3 linked regions of the Homo sapiens genome follow. The protein of the gene in region 3 purifies or fractionates together with the protein of the main gene of each other region. This does not show direct contact. Each region holds a gene or a part of one and is shown on either strand. Other genes may lie near its edges.

The links. Proteins that work in one complex are often made in the same cells at the same time.
Region 1: the proteins of NELFA (region 3) and MCM9 purify together in Homo sapiens (affinity purification with mass spectrometry; 2 studies listed by BioGRID and IntAct, with this or other methods). This does not show direct contact.
Region 2: the proteins of NELFA (region 3) and SUPT5H purify together in Homo sapiens (affinity purification with mass spectrometry; 3 studies listed by BioGRID and IntAct, with this or other methods). This does not show direct contact.

The regions. Positions count from the first base shown.
Region 1 is NC_000006.12:118,925,157-118,932,181, forward strand, and holds part of MCM9 (DNA helicase MCM9), read right to left. Parts: intron 6,583-7,025; 5' UTR 6,568-6,582; coding exon 6,264-6,567; intron 3,523-6,263; coding exon of another isoform or gene 3,432-3,522; intron 1-3,431. UniProt on the Homo sapiens protein: Component of the MCM8-MCM9 complex, a complex involved in the repair of double-stranded DNA breaks (DBSs) and DNA interstrand cross-links (ICLs) by homologous recombination (HR).
Region 2 is NC_000019.10:39,448,560-39,455,584, reverse strand, and holds part of SUPT5H (transcription elongation factor SPT5), read right to left. Parts: intron 2,230-7,025; coding exon 2,064-2,229; intron 1-2,063. UniProt on the Homo sapiens protein: Component of the DRB sensitivity-inducing factor complex (DSIF complex), which regulates mRNA processing and transcription elongation by RNA polymerase II.
Region 3 is NC_000004.12:1,984,966-1,991,990, forward strand, and holds part of NELFA (negative elongation factor A), read right to left. Parts: intron 6,751-7,025; coding exon 6,579-6,750; intron 4,905-6,578; coding exon 4,743-4,904; intron 3,043-4,742; coding exon 2,953-3,042; intron 1,513-2,952; exon of another isoform or gene 1,438-1,512; coding exon 1,307-1,437; intron 1,219-1,306; coding exon 1,149-1,218; intron 900-1,148; coding exon 811-899; intron 1-810. UniProt on the Homo sapiens protein: Essential component of the NELF complex, a complex that negatively regulates the elongation of transcription by RNA polymerase II.

The DNA of each region.
Region 1 (7,025 bases), on a different chromosome or scaffold from region 3:
CTCATGTTTGGCTACAATGCACCATTGGGGTGGAAAGATGCTGGCTATAAAGGCTAATTCCTAACAGGTTTATTGAAATAGCAACTGTTATGCCGGTTCATGTCTCCTGTCTTGTCCTCAGTATTTAGCGGTTCAAAAACCAGGTAGGTACGCCTACTGAAGGCCCATCCATCAGATTGTCCAGCCCATGAGAAATGCCATAATAGGAATCATTATACCTTAAGTTTCTATGGTCAGCATATTTTCTCCTAGTTGATACATCTATTCTGAAAGCCAATCAGAAGGTAGTTTAGGAAGTATGAGGGGAAAAAGCAAATTAGAGTAACTGAATGTTTAAGGTGCCAGGCTATGTTAACCTACTGTTACAGGTTACAAGTCTACAGATAGACTTGAATTTTCTCTGTTGGTTGGCTGAAATTCTCTCTCCATACACTGTAGAGTGTATAGACAAACAAGGTGGCCATTGCCAACATTTGCCCCTATGACTCTTTTTTCTATGCTTCTAAGACTGACTTGCCCATTTTCTAATGAACATATTCATTATTTACATTAATTCAGATTGCATCACATTTTGCCATTAAGGGAGACACACTTTTCGTTCATATCCTAGAATGTTAAAAAACAAGAAACAGCCCAGAAATCTCTCTCTCTTGTTTACCTGGCCTTAACTGGAATATATATTGTAATACATCTTAACACTGCTTGTAGATTCTCAGTTACATTTATTTTGCTCCCTACATGAATACTTTAAAAAAAATATGAATACTTAAAAAAAAGCAAGATATAATTCACATGCCATAAAATTTACCCTATAAAGTAGACAATTCAGTGGTAATTAGTATATTCACAATATTGTATAACCATCACCACTAATTCCAGAATATTTTCATAATTTCAAAAAGAAACCCTGTACCCAGTAGCAGTCACTCCCCATTCTTCCATAACCCTAGCTGCTGGCAACCATTGATCTACTTTTGGTCTTCATGAATTTACCTATTCTGGAAATTTCACACGTAGATGCTCCGTGACTTACAATGGGGCTACATCTCAATAAACCCATCGTAAATTGAAAATGTTGTAAGTTGAAAGTGCATTTAGTACACCTAACCCACTGAACATCATAGCTTAGCCTACCTAGCCTACCTTGAACATACTCAGAATACTAACATTAGCCTACAGTTGGGCAAAATAATCTAACACAAGGCCTATTTTATAATTAAGTGTTGACTATTTCATGTTATTTATTGAATACTACACTAAAAGTGACAAACAGAATAATTTATGGGTGCTCAAAGTATAATTTCTACTGAATCACTTTCGCATACTCATAAAGTCAAAAAATGTAAGTCAGGGATATCTGAACAAAATCATACAATATGTGGTCTTTTGAATCTGGCTTTATTTACTTAGAATAATGTTTTCAAGATTCATTCCTGTTGTAACATATACAGTACTTCACTCTTTTTATGACTAAATAATATTCCACTGTTTAGATATACCGTATTTTGTTTATTCATTTATTAGTTGATGGACATTTAGGTTGTTTCCACTTTTTGGCTATTATGAATAATGCAACTACAAACATTTGTATGCAAATTCTTGTTTGAACAGTTTTCGATTATCTTGGGCATACAGCTAAGGAGTAGAACTGCTGGGTCACATGGTTATTAAAATAATTTTTTTAAATAATTTTATTTTTATGTTTGCAAACAGTCACTAAGTACTCTCTATTGTACATATACAGAAGGATACTCGAGTGGGAAATATGATAATTAACCCAATTTGCTTCTCGAAATATAAACAGAATGTACCAACAATTACTTCTACGAAGGAAGGTAAAAAGGAGAATAGAAAAAAAATAGGTAAAGAAAATTTGCTTTAACAAAAATTCTTTGGGTTTCTGAAATATTCATTCTCTCTTCCTTGGCCCTAAAGAAATATCACTTTTGCCTCCCATTTCTAGTCCCCTCATCTCAGTTCTGCTTCAGATGCAAATTGATTGTTCAGTTTAAATTATATAGTCAGTATATTAAAACAAGAAAAACTAAGATCAGGAGAACCACATTACAGAAAATGTGGTGTTACTCTGACGTTATGCATGATTGAAGAATGCCCAATGAGATTACAGACTGCCTAGCATAATTTAGAAAAGTCTTTGGATTTTTGGCTGGACGTGGTGGCTCATGCCTGTAATCCCAGCACTTTGGGAGGCCGAGGCAGGTGGATCACCTGAGGTTGGGAGTTTGAGACCAGCCTGACCAACATGGAGAAACCCCATCTCTACTAAAAATACAAATAATTAGCCAGGTGTGGTGGTGCATGCCTGTAATCCCAGCTACTCGGGAGGGTGAGGCAAGAGAATCGCTTGAACCTGGGAGGCGGAGGTTGCAGTGAGCCGAGATCGTGCCACTGTACTCCAGACTGGGCAACAAGAGCAAAACTCTTGTCTCAAAAAAAAAAAAGCAAGAAAAGAAAGAGAAGTCTTTAGATTTTCAATGTGATGAAGTGATGTATCAATGAAGTCTTACATAATATAAACTGTATAGACAGACACTTGTTATTTTTGGCTTAAAAACAAATTCTGGTTTAACAACAAAGCTGTGTAATTTAATTGTAGTTTTATTCCTAGAAAGCTATCTTTAATTTGATAGTGTTTCTTACTGTAAATAGCATCTTAGAATGGAAGAATAAAACACTATATGCCCCATTGCTTCTAGAGTAACCTGAGCAATACATAATGAAGGCCAAATCTCCTTTGCTTTTACCCTTCCATGGCTTGCCACAGATCTAAGAATAAGGTACCAAATCTGGACTGGACTATAGGGCCTTTTGTGACTGGCTTCCTGTTCTATCAAGACTTCTGCGCACTTTTTCACATACAGTGCTCCCTTTGTCTCAGTGCTCTCCTCTTCACTCTGCTCCTCAAAAATGCCCACACTAAGAAGCAATGCAGTGGTTAAGAATACAGACTCAGGCCAGGCATGGTGGCTCATGCTTGTAATCCCAGAACTGGGGAGGCTGAGGTGGGCGGATCACCTGAGGTCAAGAGTTCGAAACCAGGCTGGCCAACATCGTGAAACCCTGTCTCTACTAAAAATACAAAAATTAGCCGGGTGTGGTGGCACACGCCTGTAATCCCAGCTACTCGGGAGGCTGAGGCAGGAGAATCGCTTGAACCTGGGAGGCAGAGGTTGCAGTGAACCGAGATTGCACCTGTGCACTCCGGCTTGGGAAACAGAGTGAGACTCCATCTCAAAAAAACAAAGAATACAGACTCAAGCTAGAATGCTTAGGTTTGAGTCACAACTCTGTCACTTACTAGCTGTGTGACTTTGGCTAAGTTGTAACCTCTCAGATTTCTCATCTATAAAATAACAACAGAACCTATCACACAGGGTAATAAGAAAACTAGAAGAATTCATAGCTTATACCTGTAATCCCAGTACTTTGGGAGGCTGAAGCAGAAGGATCACTTGAGGCTAGGAGTTCAAGACCAGCCTGAGCAACACAGAGACCCCACCTCTACAAAAAAAAAAAAAAATTTAAATAGCTGAGTGTGGTGGCACATGCCTGTAGTCCCAGCTACCCAGGAGGCTGAGGTGGGAGGATCGCTTGAGCCCAGAAGTTAGAGACTGCAGTGAGCTATGATTGTTGTGCAACTGCATTCCAGCCTGGGCAACAGAGTGAGACCCTGTCTCAAAAAAAAAAAAAGAATTCATACATGTAAAGTTTCTGAAAATATTACTCGGCATACAGCAAGCGCTATTTAAACATTAATTCTGGCCGGGCACCATGGCTCATGCCTGCAATCCCAGCACTTTGGGAGGCCAAGGTGGGCAGATCACCTGAGGCCAGGAGTTCAAGACCAGCCTGAGCAACATGGCAAAACTCTGTCTCTACCAAAAATACAAAAATTAGCTGGGCATGGTGGCACATGCCTGTAATCCCAGCTACTTGGGAGGCTGAGGCAGGAGGATTGCTTGAACCCAGGAGGCAGAGGTTGCAGTGAGACAAGATTGCATCACTGGACTCCAGCCTGGACAACAGAGCAAGACTCTGTCTCAAAAACAAAAACAACATACCTTGAGTGAGGCATGCATCACACATAAAAGTTTCCATTAAGCTCCCATACAATAATGCTTAATATATACATACACATGTATCTGTAGGCATGCATACACCATCTGGTAAATATTTGACTATATAGCTGTCTGCCATACAGCCCTGAGTTTTTTAAAGGAGGGAAAAACTATATTCTTTTTGGTTTCCCAAGATCCTAGCAAATGCCTACTGATGTTTTGTTCAGTAGTAACATAATTTGTAACTTACTTTTTCAGAGAATTGAAAAAATAAGCTAAATTCACCTGAAACTGATAGGGTCACTTAGGCAGACAGGATTGTATTACTTAAACTCAGTATGGAAAGGTATCTGAAAATAATGGCAGCCTAAAACTATTTCCTAAATAGCATTTCGACAACATTAACTAAAGTCCCCCTTAATAATCCTTTTGCAAACTTATTAATAGGAAACATTGGCCAGACACGATGGCTCACATCTATAATCCCAACACTTTGGGAGGCCAGAGGAGGAGGATCACTTGAGCTTGGGAGTTTAATACCAGCCCGGGTAACAGAGTGAGACTCCATCTCTAATTTTTAAAAAAGGCTGATGGGGGGGACCCTTTTTCTTGATCCCATCAAGAGATTATCTAGTACCCTGATGCATAATGATTAATACTCTTCATAATTTATCCTAGCAAGTGTAACTGCAGACAATATTTTTCATTTAAATTAAGTATTTGGTCTTTTTGGGAATCTTAACTTGCCTCCAAGAAGTTCTACTATAGTGACTCCAAACCTTTTTGGAATTCAGGAAGCATTCTTATTGATTATAAATCACCACTCTTCTCAAATGTACTATAAGGTAAATATTTATTTATTTATTTATTTATTTTATTTTATTTTATTTTTTGAGACGGAGTCTCGCTCTGTTGCCCAGGCTGGAGTGCAATGGCGCGATCTCGGCTCACTGCAAGCTCCGCCTCCTGGGTTCACACCATTCTCCTGCCTCAGCCTTCTGAGTAGCTGGGACTACAGGCGCCCGCCACCATGCCCGGCTAATTTTTTTTGTATTTTTTGTAGAGACGGGGTTTCACCGTGTTAGCCAGGATGGTCTCGATTTCCTGACCTTGCGATCTGCCCGCCTTGGCCTCCCAAAGTGCTGGGATTACAGGCGTGAGCCACCGCGCCCGGCTGCTAAATATTTATTTTTAAACAAAAGGGTATGTATGTTCTCCAACTTAATCACAGACTGCCCTCAATATTCTGGACCTGCTTTTAATTTTACCAAATCTTTCTTTCATGTAAATAGAATTAATTTGTACCAGCCTTTATTAATTTATACAATAATGGCATAGTTAAATTTTGTTTTAATTAGGGGGTTGACAGGGACTCTAGAAGTGGTTTGCAAGTGAAGAAACTGAGGCTCAGTGAGATAAAATAACTTACTAAGTCTCCCAGGTTAGGCGTGTAGCCTTTAAATCCAATTCTTCTCTTTCGCCACACTATGCCTTCCAAGAAATTACTTCCATGCAATGAACTAAATAAAAATTGTTACACTATAGTGTCACTTTTCCCTAAAATTCTTAAGTCAACTCTATCCATCCTACTAAAAAATCACTTTTAAAACAGAAAGTGAGGGGCAAGGACTCCTAGAGGCAGGAATTCAAGGATACAGCTTTGCCACCCCAAGCTGCTGATTGCTCCACTGCAGTTTCTTAACAATTAAGATGCTTTATCTGTCATGCATTCAACAAAAATGTATCGAGTAACTGGTAGGTAGACTGCACAATGCTAATACTGATCTTTAAAAATAACTAATGTCCTAAAATAGTTCTGAAGATCCCTGGACAAGATCTATCACTTTTCTAATTCTTTGTATTACCAGTTCCTTTATTGTTAGTAACCACAAAAGCTCATAAAGCTGTTTTGAATTACATTTTTAAACACAGACGTGGAAATATATAGACACACAAGTATACTGCTGTCTCCACACATTCTCCCTCCCCTCAGTGGGCAAGACTCATACTTCATGCCCACAGAACACAATTATTATTCTGCTCTAAAAGAAGTGACCATCAACTACACAACAGATATATATTTTAAGTATAAATATCAATTATTTCTTAGTGTTCTAAATCTAGTATATTTTCTCAAAATCTTTCTAGAAGATAGCATGGCAGTAAAATCCTTAAGTGATTTACCTGATATCCTGGCATGAAGATTCTGTTTCATGGAAACAGCCTCAGGCTGAGAAAGGGACTGGAGAATTGTCAAGGCTGACCTTCGCAGTGCACTATCAAAAATTGTAAGCACTTCACTGGGGAACATGTTGAAATATTCCCCGATTTCCATGTTGGTCTCAAACAGAGTCATGGCATTAACCACAACTGGGTAATGAGCATCTTCATCCCTTTCCTTCAAGATTAGAAGAATATCATTCTTATGGTATTCCGAAACATATGACTCAAACACTTGACCAACCAGTGTAACTTGATCGCTATTCATCTTGAATCTAGGTAACTAAAGAAAAAAAAAAGGATCATATTATATATTTGATACTCAAGATGTACACACAATTTAACAAAAACGATTGGTTATAAATCACACTGGCTTTGGGTCATACTATAATCACAAAATAATATCTGAATTCAAATCTTAATGAAATCTGAATTATCTGTTACAGTCACAGTACATGTACTTCAAAAATGAGTGAAGTCAAATGTAAGTCAAAGAACTATGTTGGTACTGATTATCAAAATCCAAAATAGTTCAAAGCATTTCCCATCTTTTCCCCAAATTTCCTTCATATTAACCCTGCATTAATATACAGGCATGCACCTAACAACATTTCCGGACTGCACTTATAATAGTGGTCTCATAAGATTACAATACTGTATCCTTATTGTATCTTTTCTATGCTTAGATACATAGATACCATTGTGTTACAACAACTGCGAACAGTA
Region 2 (7,025 bases), on a different chromosome or scaffold from region 3:
ATGTTCCCCCCATGTAATTTTTTTTGTTTAGACCGAGTCTTGCTCTGTCACCCAAGCTAGAGTGCAGCAATCTCGGCTCACTGCAACCTCCACCTCCCGGGTTCAAGCAATTCTCCTGCCTCAGCCTCCCAAGTAGCTGGGATTACAGGCGCCCGCCACCACGCCCAGCTAATTTTTGTATTTTTAGTAGAGACAGGGTTTCGCCATCTTGGCCAGGCTGGTCTCGAACTCCTAACCTCAGATGATCCACCCGCCTCAGCCTCCTAAAGTGCTGGGATTACAAGCATGAGCCACCACGCCCAGCCCCCACGTAATTTTTTTAACACACCGTTCTGTACCTTTCTTTTTCTCAAAACTACTACTAACTCAGAGCTCTCCCACAGCAGCACATGCCTCATATACTATATGGCCCATAATTTGTTTAACCAGGCCCTAATCATCAATAAACATTTAGGTCACCAAACTTTTGCAACTGCGAACAGGACTACAACAAGCATCTTTGTTCTCAGGTCTTCATGCACTCATGCAAGTTTAACCATAAAGTAAATTCTAAAGAGGAACTGCTTGGTCAAAGGGTTCCTGCATGTTAAATGCTAACAGGCACTGCCACACAGCCTTCCACACAGGCAGTGCCCACCAACACTTCCACCACCAACATATGGGTGTCCCTGGGAACCCACAGCTTTTACCCAGCATGGTATCCATTCTCTTGCTCTCCAAGAACATCCAGAGCACCTCCTGTCCCTTTGACAATAAACTACTTTTCTTCTCAGGTAAAACAGTCCCAGGAAAACAGAGGCAGGATGTGTTCTAAGTAACCCCTCTTCCCATAGGTAAGGGAAAACATGCACATTCATTATCATCATGGAAGTATGAACTAGTCTTATCTTTTTAGGAACTGATATTTGGCCGTAAATATAAAAAATCTTTTTTTAAAAAAAGTGCGGCCAGGCATGGTGGCTCACGCCCGTAATCTCAGCACTTTGGGAGGCCAGGGCGGGCGGATCACAAGGTCAGGAGTTCGAGACCATCCTAACACAGTGAAACCCTGTCTCTACTAAAAATATAAAAAATTAGCCAGGCATGGTGGCACGTGCCCGTAGTCCCAGCTACTCAGGAGGCTGAGGCAGGAGAAACAGTTGAACCCAGGAGGGAGAGGTTGCAGTGAGCCATCGCACCACTGCACTCCAGCCTGAGCGAGACTCCGTCTCAAAAAAAAAAAAAAAAACAACGACAACAACAAAATGCACCACCTTTACCTAGCAATTTGACTAACAGGGATTTAACACGTAGAACAGAGATTTTTCATCTGGGGTGGTCTGTGTTCGATGAAAAAACTACAGCTCCTATTTTCAGTAACCTGGAATTGAAATTTAGCATTTACATCAATTACATACAATGGCAACAAACCACACAATGTTAGCTGTGTCACTGGCTCTTTCACAGCACATTACAGCTATAGGTATCTCAAGGCAGCATTTACACTCACTGCTACTTGAAAATTAGATTCTCAGACTACCTACAAAGTCTTATTACCTAAATATGTTAACAAAGAAACATATGCACCAAAATGTTCTTTTTAAATATTCTGATAACTGTACTTCAATAAATTGTCCTCTTTGGAATCCTATGTATTTTGTTTTATGCATTTCAGAAGATGATTCTGAGAAGGGAACAGGGTTTCACCAGACTACAGAAGGGGCCGTAGCACGAGAAAAGTTAAGAACTTTGGTCCTTCACGCCTGTAATCCCAGCATTTTGGGAGGCCAAGGCGGGCAGATCACGAGGTCAGGAGATTGAGACCACCCTGGCTAACAAGGTGAAACCCCGTCTCCACTAAAAAATAGAAAAAATTAGCCGGGCGTGGTGGCGGGCGCCTGTAGTCCCAGCTATTCAGGAGGCTGAGGCAGGAGAATGGCATGAACTTGCAGTGAGCCAAGTTCATGCTACTGCACTCCAGCCTGGGCGACAGAGCGAGACTCCGCCTCAAAAAAAGAAAAAGAAATGGAACTAAAAGTAGAAGCTCAGCCTCTGCTCGGCACTGGCCAAGCACTATGACATACCAGCCTCGTCCAGAATGAAGCCTCCATGGCGGGGTTTCTTGGGGGGTCGGTCATCATCTTCTTCCTCCTCTTCCTCATCGTATTCCTCCTCCTCTTCCTCCTCCTCTTCGTCCTCAGGCTCTTCTTCTTTCTCACTGCCCGCTGCACTCCGCCGCTCTTCGTCTACCTACAGGGGTCAGGCAGGGTTGTAGCACCAGAATTCTGCTACCCCAAAAATCCAAAAACCAAGTTCCTCACCCTAAATCTGACCTCAGATTGGCCTGGCCAATCATAGCCCACTTTGCTCTGCATATATCCCTTTCACTCTAGCCTGGCCTCTCTGGTTACCATCCTATCTCAGCGACAGCACTGCCATCTCCCCAGCCACCCAAGCAACCCTGGGAGTTGACCCGGGCTTCTCCCTGCACTAGACCTCTTGCTCACTTTCCACCGAGTCTTTAACTATAATAGCTTGATGAAGCTTGGTCCTTGGGCCTCATTTCTTTCTCTCTCTTTTTTTTTTTTTTTTTGAGACAGAGTCCCACTCTGTCTCCCAGGCTAGAGTGCCATGGCAGAATCTTGGCTCACTGCAACCTCCACCTCCTGGGTTCAAGCAATTCTCTTGCCTCAGCCTCCTGAGTAGCTGAGATTACAGGTGTGCGCCACCACACCTGGCTAATTTTTGTATTTTTTTAGTAGACACGTGGCTTCACCATGTTGGCCAGGCTGGTCTCGAACTCTTGACCTCAGGTGATCCATCCGCCTCTGCCTCCGAAAATGCTGGGATTACAGGTGTGAGCCACAGCACCTGGCCCATCTCTTCCCATTCTACAACTCCCCAAGGCCATCTCGTCCTCTCCCTTGGCGGTGGTGGACATCTCTGTGACAGTGACTCCCATCTCTGTTTCTAGTCCACACTGCTCACGAAGATCACTGGCCACCCCTGTTGCTAATTCTGTGGCCATTCTGTATTCCCTACCATCCCAGCAGCATCTGGCACCCCAACCATGCCCTCCCTGGAGAAATGCTCCTCTCTTGGCTTCTGCCGTATCATGCTCTCCTGGTTTTTCTCAAAACTCCACCAGCTCCTCTTCAAGCTCCTCTTACTGTTAACCCCTTCAAATCTGACATCAATTACCAGGGCTCAGTCCAGGGCCACTTTGTTCTCCCTCCATGCCCTCTCTCCCTGTCCATTTTACTTTCCATGACCTCAGTTCCTGTCTCTAGAGATGACACGTGTCCTCATCTGTCTATAGAGTCCCACTTTTTTCCAGAACTCAAGACCTCCATGCACCAGCAGCATCCTGGATGCCTCCCCTAGATGGCCTCTGAGCCCTTTCATACTCACTGTGTCCCAAACTGACCTCAGTGTCTTCCCCTAGACCTGTGATGGCCTCCTCCAATTACCGACAGGCACCAAATCCTCATCCTTTCTGCCTGTAAACATCATTTCTCCAACCCATCCTTTTCCCCCAGCCCCATATATCTGAGCCTAGGCCAGGACACTGCCCTCTAACACCTGGATCCTTACCCCAGCCTCCTCCCTACTCTCCTGGCCTCTAATCCCTCTTTCCATACCAGAAACAACATTAATGGATGCATACCAAACTTCAGTCTTTAACTCATGAACTTCACGACTTCTTCCATGTCATTACTACAATCCATTTACCTAATACAGGTTGAACATCCCTAATCCAAAAATCTGAAATCTGGTCAGGTGCAGTGGCTCATGCCTGTAATCCCAACACTTTAGGAGGCCAAAGCGGGTGGATCACCTGACATCAGGAGTACAAGACCCGCCTAGCCAATGTGGTGAAACCCCGTCTTTACTAAAAATACAAAAGCTAGCCCAGCACGGTGGTGGGCACCTGTACTCCCAGCTACTCAGGAGGCTGAGGTAGGAGAATCGCTTGAAACTGGGAGGTGAAGGTTGCACTCAGCCGAGATTGTACCACTGCACTCCAGCCTGGCCAATGGACCAAGACACTGTCAAAAAAACAAACAAACAAAAAACTGAAATCTGAAAGGCTTCAAAATCTGAAACTTTTTCAGCACTGACATAATGCTCAAAGGTCATGCTCAGGCTGGGCGCGGTGGCTCGCGCGGATCACCTGAGGTCAGGAGTTCAAGACCAGCCTGGCCAACATAGTGAAACCCCATCTCTACTAAAAATACAAAAAAAAAAAAACCTAGCCAGGCATGGTGGCACGCCTGTAGTCCCAACTACTTGGGAGGCTGAGGCAGGAGGATTGTTTGAACCTGGGAGGCACAGGTTGCAGTGAGCCAAGATCGCACCACTGCACTCCAGCCTAGGCGACACAGCAAGACTCTGTCTCAAAAAAAAAAAAAAAAAAAGGTCATGCTCAAAGTAAATGTTCACTGGAGCATTCTGGATTTTCAGATTAGGGAACGCTCCACAGCAAATATTACAAAATCAAAAAAAAAAAAATCCAAAATCTGAAACACTTCTTGTCCCAAGCATTTTAGATAATACTCAATGTGTATTTTCTTCAAATCTACTCACCTTCTTAAATAAAAACATTTTTATATTATGCAATGTTTCAAAATTTAAAACTTTTTGAAGGTTTGTCATAAACACAAGGTAACTATAAAGATAAAAGCAAAACAATGTTATTAAGACCCAGCAAGATACTGCTGCCTGCTGCAGGCTCTAAGCCTAAGGCCTGTTCTCCCACCCAGAGGCGTTCAAGACACAGTAGCACTAAGATGAAACTTTCTCATGACCCAATCAAGATAAGACACACAACTGAAAAGGAAATATTCTCACTAAATGATTCAATGTAGCTTAAGGTCTTGTCCTTATTCCACCTAAAAGCACCTTTCATCATCCCCAACCTAGAATATATGGTACAGTCTTAGAAAACTGTAATCTAAAACATGAACCTGACCATTTGTTCCCCTGCTCAGCTTCAGCCAGCCTGAACTAGAAGCACATGCTCTGCCTGCTGCCTCTCCCCGTTCCCCACCATTCAGGACTGCCTCCCCAACACTAGGCCTCAGCTGCACTCAACTACTTGGACCATACTCTCTCAGTGCTGGCCATCATCCATGCTGGTTTTCTGTATAAAAAGTCCCCTCTGGGCCTGGGCGCAGTGGCATGCGCCTGTAATCCCAGCTATTCAGGAGGCTGAGGCAGGAGAATCACTTAAACCCAGAAGGAAGAGGTTGCAGTGAGCCGCGATTGTGCCACTACACTCCAGCCTGGGCGACAGAGTGAGACTTCATCTCCAAAAAAAAAAAACTGTGCCTCCCATTCACACTTCAACGAAAATATTCCCTCCTTAGCTAGGCATGGGGGCTCACACCTGTAATCCCAACACTTTGGGAGGCCAAGGTAGAAGGATCACTTGAGCCCAGGAGTTTGACACCAGCCTGGACAATCTGACAAAGCCCTGTCTCTACCAAAAATACAAAACTTAACCAGGCATGGTGGCAAAATCTTGTTGTCCCAGTTCATTGGGAGGCTGAAGCAGGAGGATTGCTTGATCCTCAGGAGGCTGAGGCTGCAGTGAGTCGAGATCACACCACTGCACCCCAGCATGGGTGACAAAGTGAGACCCTGTCTCAAAAAAAAAAAAAAAAGGCTTAGCGTGGTGGCTCATGCCTGTAATCCCAGCACTTTGGGAGGCCGAGGTAGGCGATCACTTGAGGTCAGGAGTTCTGAGACCACCCTGGCCAACATGGTGAAACCCCATCTCTACCAAAAATATAAAAATCAGCCAGGTGTGGTGGCGCACCGCTGTAATCCCAGCTACTCAGGAAGCTGAGAGAGGAGAACTGCTTGACCGTGAGGTGGAGGCTGCAGTGAGCTGAGATCGTGCCACTGCACTCCAGCCTGGGTGACAGAGCAAGACACCAAGACAAAAAAAAAAAACCAAACTAACCTTCCTCCTCCAGGCAGCCATCCCCGCCCCCTCTCCCCCAGGCAGAGTCAGGCACATCCTCTATGCTCACAATTCTCTGGGCTCCCTCCATCACAGCCCTGACCACTGTGAGCCTCCCAATAGTAGGGCCCAGTCCATCTCAGGCACTGCTGGGTCCCCCAACATCACCCAGCCCAAGGCCAAGCACAGAAGACTTCAGAAATATTTGCTTAACACAAATCTCGACTAGCCCACGATGAAGCACATTTTAACAACCCAAACTATGACAGGACCACAGGCTGATTTCTAGGAACCTTGTCATCAGTTCCCCTCTGACAGGTCCCAGAGATGCCTCTTTCCAAACCTGGCTCCTCCCTCCCAGTGGAGGATGCCCCCACCACTCTCTGCTCACCTCAGGGCTTGGATGTGCTCTCACCGTCCTCAACATCCCCTGCAGTAACTGTGTATCTATAAAACTGCCTCTGCCTTGAGACTGAGATCTCTGTAAGGGAGACTGTGACCCCAACATGCCAAGTCAAGGAACATTTGTTTTTTGTTTTTTGTTTTTTGAGATGCAGTCTCGCTCTGTCTCCCAGGCTGGAGTGCAATGGTGCGATCTCTGCTCACTGCAAGCTCTGTCTCCTGCGTTCACGCCATTCTCCTGCCTCAGCCTCCCAAGTAGCAGGGACTACAGGCACCCACCACCACGCTAATTTTTTGTATTTTTAGTAGAGACGGGGTTTCACCATGTTAGCCAGGATGGTCTCAATCTCCTGACCTCGTGATCCACCCACCTCAGCCTCCCAAAGTGCTGGGATCACAGGCGTGAGCCACCACACCCAGCCAGAACATTTGTTGAATGAATAAATGAACAGGTTACTGGAGCCATGATGGGTGAACCAGCAGCTCCCCTCAAAAGTAGCTCATTATTTGCCATCCCTACCTGTCTAGCCACAGAACCCTGTCCTTCAAGGACCATGTCATCATTTGGCTGTCTGAAAAGGCCATCCAATCCTGTCCCTGGCAGTGGGGACAGGCCTCACAGTGCCCTCTTGCCTCACCTGGTAACTGAAGAGGAGCCAGCGGCGGGGGTGGGGGG
Region 3 (7,025 bases):
GGCATGTGCTAACACATGGCCCGACCCGGAGCTCCACTGCCACAGGCTGTGGCCCCCCGAGCTAGAGCAGGAAGGCGGGGGCCACTCTCCCGAGCTCCCTGGGCTAGACAACGGGACCCCTGGCCCCTGGCGCCCCAGCAGAGTTGGGGACTGAGCCGCTCCTGTGTAGGAGAGGGGAGGGGTTGAGGAGCCCAAACAGCCCATCTTGAGCACAGAAGGAGCGATGCTTTTTCTTACCACGAAGCGTTGATATAAAGGAAGATGCTCATGTTAAGAAACACAGAACACGCAGCGGCGGGAAGAAAGGAGCTTATTATCCTGAAGTGACCCCACAGTGTGGCCTCCTCCAGGCCCTGGCCTCAGACGACCCACTGCAGCCTCTGTGCACCTGCCGCGCCCCGTGGCTGCCTCCCACCCGCAGGCAGGGCCTGGTCTCCGGGACACTGAGGCCTCTGACCACCCAGCACCCCCACAGGCCTGTCCTGCACCCATTCACGGCCACGTGCAAGGCTTAGGTCCCACCAGCCCTGCCTGACGGGACACTGAGGCACAGGGTTGAGGAGGACTCCCCTGGCAGCCCCTCCAGCAAGCGTGGGGCAGGTTCCCGCTCCAAGCCTGAGTCAGATGCCCATGTCAGGGCACGGCCCACACTGCCTCTCATGTACATATACGTATATATACATAAATACAGACTGCACACATATGTACATACATATATATATTCTCCGACAGAGCACACTAGTGGCCACAATCGGAACAAAAGGGGCACCCGCAGTGGTGCCAGACATGGGGTGCAGCCCCGAGCCCTACCTGCGTGGACACCAGGCCGGCTGCGTAGTCCGGGGTGGCGTTCTCCACCACCGTTTCCTCCTTGGCCGGCTTCTCCACCACCTCCGCATCTGTGGACAAAACAGGAGTCCTCGCCAGTGCCCGGGCGCGTCTGCAGTGTCAGCTCAGGGCAGCGGCAGGGAATCAAACAGCTTCCCAGGGGAGGCCACCAAGGAGCGAGGAGAAAAGCAGGCACCCACCCACGGAGAGCAGCCTCACGGGGCACAGCCCTGCCCGCCGAGCGTGGGCACAACCCACCCCAACTGGGCAGGGCCCGCAGGGACCCCCATTGCCGCCGACACGCAGGCCCCAACCCCCACCGAGAGTCTTCCTTCTCCGCTTCGCCTCTCGGCCAGCGCCAACCATATCCAGCTCAGAGATGTCCAGCAGCTGCCAAGACAAGCACAGCCCTGCCTTAGTGACGGCACCAGGGCGCAACGGGCCCCGGGGTGCCACAGGAGCTGGGGGACGGGCCTACCTTCACACCTCGTTCCTTCCGCAGCAGCGTCCTGGAAGGCGGGATGGGGGTCCGGTTCCCTGTGGGGCTGAAGACGCTGGGCGCCGTGGGGCTTCTGAAGGGCGCCTGCTTCGGGATGCCTTTGAGTGGGGCTGGAGGACGGCAACAGTCAGGGCGCCAGCAGCAGTGACCGGCAAACGTCCCCCACCCCGAGCTCAGAACGTCCCACCCTCTTCTAGGCTAGCGCCGCAGAGGGGAAGGGCCAAACCCCTGGCGGGCAGCGGGCAGGACCCCCAGGATCCCGGACCTCAAGGAGCAGGGGAACGCCTGGAGCCACGACCTCACACTTTGCCAAGACACCAAACAAAGACAGCGGCACCCCAGCCCAGCCACAGGATCTCACCAGGTGGAGTCTCTCACCAGTGTGGCGGGGGCTGAGCTCTGCCTCCTTCCTGTGCCTCCACCGGCAGGGGCATGAAGCCAGGCGCCTGGGCTTGAGGGCCGCCCTCCCAAGCCTTCTCCCCGTCCCCTGAGGACACTCCTGAGGCCTACCTACGCTGTTACCCACCAGCGCCCACACGCACCCTCCAAGGCGTGCGTGGCTCTCATGGTGCCAGGCCCGGAGAGAGGACGCCCGGGGGATGGTGCCATCAGCACACCGGGCCAGGCTGGACACACTGCTCAACGGCTGGCCCACCCTCCCTGGGCCAGCAGGTGCAGCCCTGGCCCTGGGATGCCTGGTGGGGGTGGAAAGACAAGGGTCTGCTCCAGGCGGGGTAGAGGAGAGCAAGGTGGAACCTCGGCTGCGGTGGGCAGGAACATGACCCAGGGACGGCCCCCCACACAGCGACAATAGTCAGCAGACCCAAGATGCCTTCTACTAGGTCCCATGTGAACACTGTGGGATTATGGGAGCCCAAATAAACTAAGCCAGGCTGGTCTGGGAGCTGCATGGAGAGCGCCTGTAAGGCTGCCCTTTCAGCCCCACCCATCTGCAAGTTTACCCAGCTGTCTCAGCACAGGACGACACCCGTCCTGCCCTCTGGCCCCCAGGTCACTATCCAGCACCCTCTGGGGTGAGTATGCCCTGCCATGGTTCCCAGGGGCACGCCGTCTTCCTGTGATCAGGGTGCATCCTGCTTAAGCTCACGCCCAGCCCTGAGAGCACAAATCAGGAAGGGCAGATGGAGGGGTGCGGGGGGCACAGCCCCACGGGCAGCTGAGCACGGTCACGTCCTCCCCGCGGAGCCGCCCAGGGACACTCGGAACCCAAGAGCAGCACTTGGGGCCGAAAGCCCGAGCTGGGAAGGCCGAGAGCCACCGGTGCCAACAGCAGAGGAGCAGGGGCCAGCACTGTCCTCAGATCCCGGCCTTCCTGTCTCCATGCCCAGCGGTGTCCTCAGATCCCGGCCTTCCTGTCTCCGTGCCCAGCACTGTCCTCAGATCCCGGCCCTCCTGTCTCCGTGCCCACACATCCTCCCAGGGAGCTCCCCAAGGGGAGAAGCCGGTGAAATTGCCCCAGTGCCTTCGCTTTCCCACGGGCTCCCAACACTGCTGCCTGAAGACCATTCACAGGCACCACCTCCCCAACAGGGAGCGGGTCTCCAGGTGAAGCCCTTAGCTCTGCCCCAAAAGCAAGGCTCACGGCACCAGGGTGGGGGCCTTACTGGTGGTGTCCATCTTCCGCAGCAGCCCCCGGCCCTTGGCGTGGAAGGGCACCCCGGCGCTCCGCTTCAACTGCTGGGCGGTCTCCGTGGCTGGAAGGAAGAGGTCACATATGTCAGGGATCCTCAGAGCGAGAGCCCTTGGCCCTTGTAAAAACATCTCTGTCAAGTGGATTCATCCGACGGCCTGAGCCGTGAACGCTGCATTCTCTCTAAATGAGCAGCTGTTCCGAGCCGGGCCTGACACCAGCTCGCACTTTACAACGAGTCAGAAACTCACTCAGGTGAGCAAGTTTCGGGAGCTGGGTGGCTGTGGCTGCACCTCCCAGGACCCCATGGCAGGGGGGAGGCAGCCGAGGAGGAGCTGAGGGACCTCATGAGCCCTCTCCATCGACCCGGGCCTCCCCCTGGCCCAGTGGTAGCACCGTCCTCGCTGAGGGTCAGCAGGCACGGTCTAGATACAAAAATATGAGGAAGAAACAAACGAAGAGATATTCCTGACTTGGTTCAGTGTGGCTGAAGGGTCAGGGGACACCGAGTGCCCAAAGCAGACCCTGTGGCCACTGCTGGCCTCCAAAGGGGGTGGGGCCCAAGGGGCCAGCAGAGTCCTTCCTGGGCTACCCAGTGGGCCCGGGGCTGCACGGAGCCTCCCGGACAGCGCTGGGCCCTGGCTGCTGCCCGTTCCAGCCAAGATCCATGCACAGCTGCTGTCAGCCTTTTATTTGGATTCTCTGGAAACGGGGTATTGATGTACATTATAAATATTAATTCCATAACCATTCAAAATAAAACGATGTTATTGAAATCTTTGTCGTGCTTTGGGAAAACGTTAACTGAAATGATTAAATATCTTTCAAGTGGAATTGAGATCACCCGCCACTCCAGAAGGCAGCAACGTGAGAGTAAGGAACGTGCCCCTCCAGCCATTCACCCTGGCACCCACCGTGCCCAACAGCGTGACTCAGCTGGCACAGAGTTCATTTGGTCACAGAGATTAGAGATGCCTTCACCTAAAATTCTGAAGTTGGTGGGTTTTTTTTTTTTTTTTGAGATGTTGTTTCGCTCTTGTTGCCCAGGCTGGAGTGCAGTGGGGCAATCTTGGCTCACTGCAACCTCCGCCTCCCAGGTTCAAGTGATTCTCTTGCCTCAGCCTCCCAAGCAACTGGGATTACAGGCATGCACCACCACAGCCAGCTAATTTTTGTATTTTTAGTAGAGACGGGGTTTCACCATGTGGGCCAGGCTGGTCTCGATCTCCTGACCTCAGGTGATCTGCTGGCCTCAGCCTCCCAAAGTGCTGGGTTTACAGGTGTGAGCCACCATGCCCAGCCTAAATTCTGAAGTTTTTAAAGCATGTTTTCAGAACATAAAGTTTAATATAGTGATAAACTTCTAACAAAAAACTTTATGCAGAACTTTATCTTCTTTTTCTTGAGACAGGGTCTCACTCTCTCCCAGGCTGGAGTGTAGTGGTGTGATCACAGCTCACTGCAGCCTCAACCTCGTGGGCTCAGGTGATCCTCCTACCTCAGCCTTCCGAGTAGCTGGGAGCACAGGCACGCACCACCATGCCCGGCTAATGTTTTGGTACTTTTGGTAGAGATGGGGTTTCTTGGCTGGTCTCAAACTCCTGGGCTCAAACGACCCACCTGCCCCAGCCTCCCAACAGGTGTGAGCCACCATGCCTGGCCCAGAACGCCACCTTGAAGGGGCAGTCTTGGTACCTTAGAACCTAAGAAACCTATGACTGGAAACTACAAAGACAATGCCCGATGGCGGCCGCGGCCACTCACACTTCTGCAGCAGCTCCGCCCGCAGCGTGGCGCTCTTGGGTTTCCGCTTTAACTGAAAATGCTTCACCGGGGGAGTGAGGGGTCCCGCGAGGGTCGTCAGGGCGTTTTTGTTCAAGTACTGGCACTCCAGTGGCAGCATGGCAGACGCTTCACACTCACCCACTGCCGGTAAGAACCACATGAAGTTAGGGGCGCCCAGGCCGCAGACCTCCCGGCTGAGAGGAGCTGGCGGCTGCCCAGCCCCACACCCTCCTCAGTTAGGGTTAGGTCATGGGAGCTTCGGCTGTCCCCTGAGGTCCTCGAGACTGACTCCCCACGGCTCCAGCAGAACACCCAGGAGCATTTGCAGAACAGGAATGCCTGAGAGGCGGGCATGCCTTGAGAGGGCTGTAAACTGGAAACCTCTGGCACCGCGGACACCAAGAACCACAGGCGGACATAGATACAGTGATTCCTGGAGGGCTCCAGACACTTGTAGAACATGAAATGTTAACAGATCCCACCCCCACGTAAGAAGGACCCCCGATCTGTGGCTTCTCTCTTCCCGTCCCCGAGGGTAGCCAGGCTGGTGGTCTCTCCTGGAACCCTGGCCCTCATCCAAACTGCCCACATCCATTTCCTCAGCCTGTGTGCTCACCCACGGTTCAGATCCCAGAAACTGCCCCACGAGGGACAGGCGACCTCCCACCTGAACTGGCTACGTGCCCCACCTGGAGAAAAAGCACAGGCAGGCACATGAGAGTTCACCGGCCTCAGCCTTCCTGCCCGCGGGACACTCCTGAGACACGAACGGGTGGGGTGGGGTGGACCTGTCCAGACCACTGCTCCAGAGGCATCTGTGTGGTGTGTGTGACCTCACAGGTGGGGAGAGGTGCCACTTGCAGGGGGGTGGCCAGCAGGGCCCCTGCAGGAGTGTGCAGCCTCGATGTCTCCATCCCACAACCCTGTCTCTCTGGGTGCTGCCCTTGAAGGAGCTGGGGCACAACGTTTGGGCTCTGAGGAGCCAGTTCCAATTGTCCAAAGCAGGAGAGAAACTCAGAAAAGCACAAGCATCAAGCATCCCATCAAGACATGTTCTTCAAATCCATCTACAAATAGTTGTTTCTTTTAAGAGATACATTCTCACCCTGTTACCCAGGCTGGAGTGCAGTGGCGCGATCATGGCTCACTGCAGCCTTGGCCTCCCAGGCTCAAGTGATCCTCCTGACTCAGCCTCCCAAGTACCTGGGAGGACAGGCATGTGCCATCACGCCCACCTAATTTTTATTTTTTGTACAAATGGGTTCTTGCTATGTTTCCCAGGCTGGTCTCGAACTCCTGGGCTCAAGCAATCTGGCCATCTCAGCCTCCCAAAGTGCTGGGGTTACAGGAGTGAGCCACGGAGCCCAGCCTTGTGAATATTTTCTAAGTGACTTTCAGTTCACATTTAAACAACTAAATCGTTGATATTTTCAACATGCATTTCTGAGCATGTACTCTGGGCCAGGGAATGCTCTGGGCCCTAGAACCTAGGATCTACAGATACCACCTGAATGGGCAGAGCCCCTACCCTCACGGAGCCGACCAGAGAGAGACGGCGAGTGGCGTGACACAGCCTCCCACTGACACCGCAGCAGTGAGGATGGGGCCTGTGGGCTGTTTGGAGTTTGTTTTCAAAGATGGCAAAAGCCAGGCAGCAGCTTACGGGGGAGGATGGTGCATATACAGTTAATATTCTAGGGACCAGGACACACGGAAAAACGTAAAGGTCTAAAAATCAAATTCATTTCAGAAAAAAATTTTTCAAGAAAGATCCATTTCCCTCCACCCAACATGAATTAAAGCAGCACAACATACCCTTTTCTCTAAGTTCTCCCAAAATATCCTGAACGTTGGGATTCTGCTCCTCCAGCTCCAGGTTAAGCGAGCCTGTGTCCGGAAAGGACTTCAAGATGTCGGCGACCATGAGCACCCAGGGGTCCGAGTCGAGGCTGGCGAGCTGGATGATCTCCATTAGGGCGCCCTTCATCTGCAAAATAGGATGCTGCCGGCGCCACCATGCCCCTGCCCACTTCCAAGCCCACTCCCTGCTGAGCTTCCGGATGGGCACTGGGCAGTGGCCGGGCTCTCTGGCAGTTGCCCCCAACACTTCCTCCTGAGGGCTCCCCTTCCTCTGAGCCCCCCGCCTCACCCCAGGGCCACCTTGCTTCCCTGAGCAGCACAGCCTCTGCCAGGTTGCAAGGCCCCGGCATCCGGTGCCCTCCCAGCAGCCTCCCACCTCCCAGCAGCACCCAGTCCACTGGG